2 linked regions of the Homo sapiens genome follow. The protein of the gene in region 1 purifies or fractionates together with the protein of each later gene. This does not show direct contact. Each region holds a gene or a part of one and is shown on either strand. Other genes may lie near its edges.

Region 1 (3,500 bases):
CCTTTAAAAAGGTAAGCTCTGATATTAAAGTAACATTTAAAATAATAGTTTGTACTTAAAGGGGGAAAAGTTTTTGTGGTTTTAGTGTTAAGACTTAGTTTTAGATGTGAAGAAGGGCCCATCTAATGAAACTTCTCCCTCAAAGCAAATATGTGCAGGAAAGAACAATATTTATAAATATTCTTGTAATTTTCACAACACATAGCAATTCCCCATGAGTAGTTTAATCACCACAGTAAGCGAGTTCTGTATGGTTGCTCCAAGTGAGGGTGAGAGTAGAGAAATCAGGTTTTCTTCTTCCTATACCCTCTAGAATTCTTATATAAGGTGATGATGTATCACAAAGGAAATTCCTCAATATCATACTGGAAATAGTGGAAGTAGACAAAAATTCAAGTCCCTGTGTCTTAATGGAAGTTCGTTCTTTGGAGCGGAATGAAAAGTTCAGGACCAGGTTAAACTTCCACTAGTAACCGACCTCAAGCAGCAAGAGGATACTCAGAAATTGGTATGGAGCTTGCTTGGATTTTGTATAATAGATCAGTCATGTCACCTGAAGCTGTGCCCCTGCCTACTTTATTTATGTCACCTCTATAGTTGCAGTCTTACAGTTGGTACATGCATATGCTTTTTGATGAAAAGAAAATGGAGGGCAAAGATCTGTTCTTGTTTCTCCTGCCTTCACATAATTTCTCTTTATTCAACATTACTCTTCTAAGACTTTCTTATAATAGCTATTGAGGCAAAAGAAAAGCCAATCTGAATATATTAATTATTTTTATATATGAAGATGGTTAAAGATTTCAGAGTTAAAAAATATGGAGACTATAGTTTTTCCTAAAAAAGAATTTCCTTTTGTTTTTCTGAAAAAACAAAACTGGTACCAAAAACATAACTGGTACCAGGCAAAATTAAACAGAACATAAATCATTTATGAAAGGAAATACGGTCTTGTAAATATTTGGAATTGAAGGGCCAGGTTCTGTGGCTCATGCCTGTAATCCTAGCACTTTGGGAGGCCGAGGCGGGCAGATCACTTGAGGCCAAGAGTTCAACACCAGCCTGGCCAACATGGGAAAACCCTGTCTCTACTAAAAATACAAAAATTAGCTGTGCATTGTGGCACATGCCTGTAGTCCCAGCTACTCGGGAGGCTGAGAGGCAGGAGAATCACTTGAACCTGGGAGGTGGAGGTTGCAGTGAGCTGAGATTGTACCACGGCACTCCAACCTAGGTGACAGAGCAAGACTCCATCTCAAATAAAACAAAACAAAAAAACCCCCAAACAACAACAATGAAAATATTTGGAATTGATAAGAAAGTAGTTAGGTGGAGAAAACAGGATAGGAATTGTAGACCTTAAGGACTTTTAAGAAAGTCTATTTGCAAATACAAACTACCAAAAAGCAAGTATTTTTCCTTCCAATTCCTTGGAACAATATCACCCTATATCTCCATACGTTTATCAAATAACAGTATGTTTCAGTGTTTGTGTAAGGATAAAGCAGGAACGGGCATCTTTCTTCACATAAATGTTTGTATTTTAAAAACAAATATTCATCATTTTACTTATTTATCTTGTTGCCAATAAATATTTTTCTTTAACATTTAAAAAAAAGATGGCTGAATGTTATTTTATCACTAGTATTGTACCATGATTTACTTAACAACTACCTCTACTGTTGCTTCCAATATTTCACTTCTTCATTAAAAAAAATAACACTGTGGTGACAATCCACATGGGTAATTCTTTGACTCAGACAGGGTTCCAATCCCAAATCTACCATTTGCTAGCCGTGTGACACCAAGAAAGCTACTTAACTTTTTTAGTCTCAGTTTATCTGAAAATGGGGCTTATACTCATAACAGTATTATGTTTCCTAAGATAGTTATGTATTACAAGGTGAGTAAGCTTTTATAAAACAATGCCAAATGGGCCAGTGTGGTGGCTCACGACTGTAATCCCAGCGCTCTGGGAGGTCAAAGCGGGCAGATCACTTGAGGTCAGGAGTTTGATACCAGCCTGGCCAACATGGCAAAACCCTGTCTCTACTAAAAATACACAAATTAGCCAGGTGTGGTGGTGTACTCCTGTAATCCCAGCTACTCTGGAGGCTGAGGCATGAGAATCGCTTGAACCTGGGAGGTGGAGGTTGCAGTGAGCTGAGATCACGCCACTGCACTCCAGCCTGGGTGACAGAGCAAGACTCTGTCTCAAAAAATAAATGAATAAACCAACAATACCAAATGGAAGTATCTTCCTTTTGTTCCCCTTAAGTAACCTCTAGAGTTCCCTTAAAGATTGAAAAGTTTATGCAGATTACAGATTTTTCCATATTCTAATGTAAGCCAAACATTATTGATTTAAAAATTGAATCTTGTTTATATGTGACTATGTAAGTATAAATATTTATACCTCAAATTACTCATATGTATACTCTTCACATTGTTATTCACTGAATGTTTCTCAATAGTGGCATAGAATTTGGGCTCTGAAGCCAGACCACTGAATACAAATCCCAGTTTTACCATTTACCAGCTGTGTGACTCTATGAATATTATTTAACTTCCCTGTGTCTCACTTTCATGTTGTGTGAAATGGAGATAATGTTGTCTTCTTCAATGGGCTGTTGTAAAGGTTGGGAAAGAACTGGCTACTGGGCAGTGATAGTACAACAGAAGGTACAAATATATCTTAAAATAGTGATTTCATTCTATTAAAAAATAAACATAGCAAACTTGTACACATCTCTCTCTGAAATGGGTAGAGATGTTAGTAAGAGGTAATCTACTAGTTTCAGACAAAAGATGGAATAACTGGTACCAGGCTAGTCCTCCTGCCATGGCACCACTAGAAAACTGGACAAAAATACATTTTTCAGATACTGGACAATAGGCAGCACAGTAGTGTGATCCCTGAAGGGCATCAATGAGTAACAAATTAGATAAACCCTATATCATCCCAGCTTTCTGGCTGGAGACACATTACTGGTTGCTACACAGGGTGGGGGAACCCAACCAGAGGATGGTGGTTTATGGAGAGATAGAGATGGTTGTTTAGGGAGCCTGAGAAAGCTGGAATATGCTGGGATATGTTAGGCGGAGTACCAGAATACACAGAGTAAGTTTTAGAAATCTGCATAGTAACCCACTTGAGTGTTCAGCTGAATATTAAGCTGTCCATGTGCGCGGTGAAACTCCATAAAGCAGGAAGGACAACTTCTCACTAAAGAATACTGGGGAACTATAGGCTGAAAATTGCTGGAGCTTGCACTGGACTAGGAAAAAGTCAAGTTCTAACCAGCCAGGGAGAGCTCGTTGAACACCTGAGACATTGTAAAGATCCCGGAAGGGTCACTCCTTAGGTGTAGGACTAAACTGGCACGAGAGTACAGCTTATTGGAGACCTATGCTGTACAATACAGTAGGCACTAGCCACATACCATTTAAATTAAATAAAAAATTCAGTTACTGAATTATACTAGCCACATTTCAAGTAT
Region 2 (3,500 bases), on another chromosome or scaffold:
TTGAGCCACTGTGCCTGGCCCATTTCCCCTTTTCTACATGGAGAAGGACAGAATTGGGCACTGTTCAGTTTCCATCATGGCCTCTCTTGATGTATCTTGTTAAGCTTCTGCCTTCCCTCCTGCCTGCCTCGGTCTGTGGTTTTTCAGCTCCAGAGAGAGGGTTGATTGGCCTGGCCGACCTTTCCGAGGGATGGGTTCAGCCAGCTTTGGGTCAGCTGTGGTGGGTGTGGTGTTAGCTATGGTTCCTCTAGCCTCACGGTGGCACTGTGGGCTGAGACTTCCTTCTAAGAGGCAGTGAAGGCAGGTAGCCTCAATAAAACCTGTCTGTTCTGAGATAGAAGTAGAAACACAGAAGTGCTCCAGTTGCAGTAAAAATATCCAGGTTATTTGGGGACCAAACACCCTTTCCTCAGACTAAAAGAGGGATTGTCAACCCAGATGGCTAGAGAGTAGGGGGATCTGAATGAGCGAGGGCTGTTGGTGCCAACTTAGAGAGTCTGTGTCTTGCCCGTCAGGCTGCTACTGCCCAGCCTGGGTTGACGTCATCAGGGCAAACTCAGGCTTGGTGCTTATAGGTCTTCTGTTTTAGTAAGTAGTCGATCCAGATTTTTAAGTGACACCACACGCATTTTAAATGTTGGCAGCAAATACAGATTGGCAAAAAGCACTGAGGTGTATAAAGCAGTTTTGCTGCCTGGTGATCCGTGGACTGTTTGTTTGCACTGTTTGCATTCTCTGGTCTAAAGTATCTTTTGGCTTCTTCTTTTTTTTTTTTGGATGGTTTATTTCAGATCTCTTAAGGGCAGTCCCAAGATCCAGAGCAGAGATGTATGATGACGTCCACAGCGATGGCAGATACTCCCTCAGTGGATCTGTAGCTCACTCTAGAGATGCCGGAAGAGAAGGCCTGAGAAGTGACGTATTTCCAGGGCCTTCCTTCAGATCAAGCAACCCTTCCATCAGTGATGACAGCTACTTTCGCAAAGAATGTGGCCGGGATCTGGAATTTTCTCACTCTGATTCTCGGGACCAGGTCATTGGCCACCGGAAATTGGGGCATTTCCGTTCTCAGGACTGGAAATTTGCGCTCCGTGGTTCTTGGGAACAAGACTTTGGCCATCCAGTTTCTCAAGAGTCCTCTTGGTCACAGGAGTATAGTTTTGGTCCCTCTGCAGTTTTGGGGGACTTTGGATCTTCCAGGCTGATTGAGAAAGAGTGTTTGGAGAAGGAGAGTCGGGATTATGACGTGGACCATCCTGGGGAGGCTGACTCTGTGCTTAGGGGCGGCAGTCAAGTCCAGGCCAGAGGTCGAGCTCTAAACATCGTTGACCAGGAAGGTTCCCTCCTAGGAAAGGGGGAGACTCAGGGCCTGCTCACAGCTAAGGGGGGTGTTGGGAAACTTGTCACATTGAGAAATGTGAGCACAAAAAAAATACCCACCGTGAATCGTATTACTCCCAAAACTCAGGGCACTAACCAAATCCAGAAAAACACTCCAAGTCCTGATGTGACCCTGGGGACAAACCCAGGGACAGAAGATATCCAGTTCCCCATTCAGAAGATCCCTCTGGGGCTGGATCTGAAGAATCTTCGGCTCCCCAGAAGAAAGATGAGCTTTGACATCATAGATAAGTCTGATGTTTTTTCAAGATTTGGGATAGAAATAATCAAATGGGCAGGATTCCACACCATAAAAGATGATATTAAATTTTCCCAACTTTTCCAGACTCTCTTTGAACTTGAAACAGAAACCTGTGCTAAAATGCTTGCCTCATTCAAATGTTCCTTAAAACCAGAGCACAGAGATTTTTGCTTTTTTACTATCAAATTTTTAAAGCACTCTGCTTTGAAAACACCCAGAGTTGATAATGAGTTTTTAAACATGCTTTTAGACAAAGGTGCTGTGAAGACCAAAAATTGCTTTTTTGAAATCATAAAGCCTTTTGACAAGTACATAATGAGACTTCAAGACCGGCTTCTGAAGAGTGTCACACCTTTGCTTATGGCCTGCAATGCCTACGAGCTAAGTGTCAAGATGAAGACCCTCAGTAACCCCCTGGACTTGGCTCTTGCCCTAGAAACCACCAACTCTCTCTGCCGGAAGTCTTTGGCCCTTTTGGGACAGACATTTTCCTTGGCCTCTTCTTTCCGGCAGGAGAAAATCTTAGAAGCTGTCGGCCTGCAAGATATAGCTCCCTCACCTGCTGCGTTTCCAAACTTCGAAGACTCCACTTTGTTTGGGCGAGAGTACATAGACCACCTGAAGGCCTGGCTAGTCAGCAGCGGATGTCCCCTCCAGGTTAAGAAAGCCGAACCAGAGCCGATGCGAGAGGAGGAGAAAATGATTCCTCCTACGAAACCTGAAATTCAGGCCAAGGCTCCAAGTAGTCTGAGTGATGGTAAGGAAATCAGCCAAAGTTTCTATTTGTTGTTTTTCGTGTTTCTTTGGTAATGTCTTTTATTCGAGATTTTTTTACACAGAAGTTCTTTAGCCAATTGGAAACATATCAGGATTTTAGTAGAAAACGCACATTGGCCAATATATGTCTGCCATTCATTCTGTGAATGTGTATTAGGAATCTGCTGTTTACCATAGAAGTCTTTAGACAGCCGGGTGTGGTGGCACATGCCTGTAATCCCAGCACTTTGGGAGGCTGAGGCGGCAGATCACTTAAGACCAAGAGTTTGAGACCAGCCTGGCCAACATGGTGAAACCCCATCTCTACTAAAAATACAAAAACTAGCCGGGTGTGGTGGCACGCACCTGAAATCCCAGCTACTCGGGAGGCTGAGTTAGGAGAATCCACTTGGACCTGGGAGGCGGAGGTTTCAGTGAGCTGAGATCACCCCACTGCACTCCAACCTGGGTGACAGAGCAAGACTCTGTCTCAGAAAAATAAAAATTTTTAGACATTTTTAGGTCAAATACCTCTCTGGGAATTTGGTAGAAAGCTGTGGCCATTGCCAGAAAAAATGCTCATCTATTCACGCACAATTTTACCTATATCATCCGGGGGATTCGTACCTTTCTGCAGCCAAGGTTAAGAACGCTTGTTCCTTTTTTTTTCTTTTTAACCTTTGAAAAAAAGAAGGGTTGACTTTCTTTCCTTGTTTTTGTTTTTTTGAGACAGGGTCGTGCTCTGTCACCCAGGCTGGAGTGCAGTGGCATGACCATGGCTCACTGCAGCCCCGACCTCCTAGGCTCAAGTGATCCTTCCGCCTCAGCCTCCTGAGTAGCTGGGACTATAGGCATGTACCACCATGCCTGGCTAACTTTTTTTGTATTTTTTTGTAGAGAATCATGTTGCCCAGACTGGTCTCGAACTCCTGAGCTCAAGTGATCTACCTGCCTCAGCCTCCCAAAGTGCTGGGATTATAGGTGTGAGTCACTGCACCTGGCCTGGAACCCTTGTTCCAACATGTCCCCACAAGGTATTACTAGAAGGGAGAAAAGACACAGAGCACTGTCTCTGAGGAATCCCCAGGCTCCTGAGGGAAGA

Evidence for each region. The genes of interacting proteins can lie anywhere in the genome.
Region 2: the proteins of NDUFAF2 (region 1) and SUGP2 fractionate together in Homo sapiens (co-fractionation; one large-scale study listed by BioGRID). This does not show direct contact.

What each region holds. Positions count from the first base shown.
Region 1 is NC_000005.10:61,147,705-61,151,204, reverse strand, and holds part of NDUFAF2 (NADH dehydrogenase [ubiquinone] 1 alpha subcomplex assembly factor 2), read right to left. Parts: intron 1-3,500. UniProt on the Homo sapiens protein: Acts as a molecular chaperone for mitochondrial complex I assembly. Complex I functions in the transfer of electrons from NADH to the respiratory chain. The immediate electron acceptor for the enzyme is believed to be ubiquinone.
Region 2 is NC_000019.10:19,023,518-19,027,017, reverse strand, and holds part of SUGP2 (SURP and G-patch domain-containing protein 2), read left to right. Parts: intron 1-791; coding exon 792-2,399; intron 2,400-3,500. UniProt on the Homo sapiens protein: May play a role in mRNA splicing.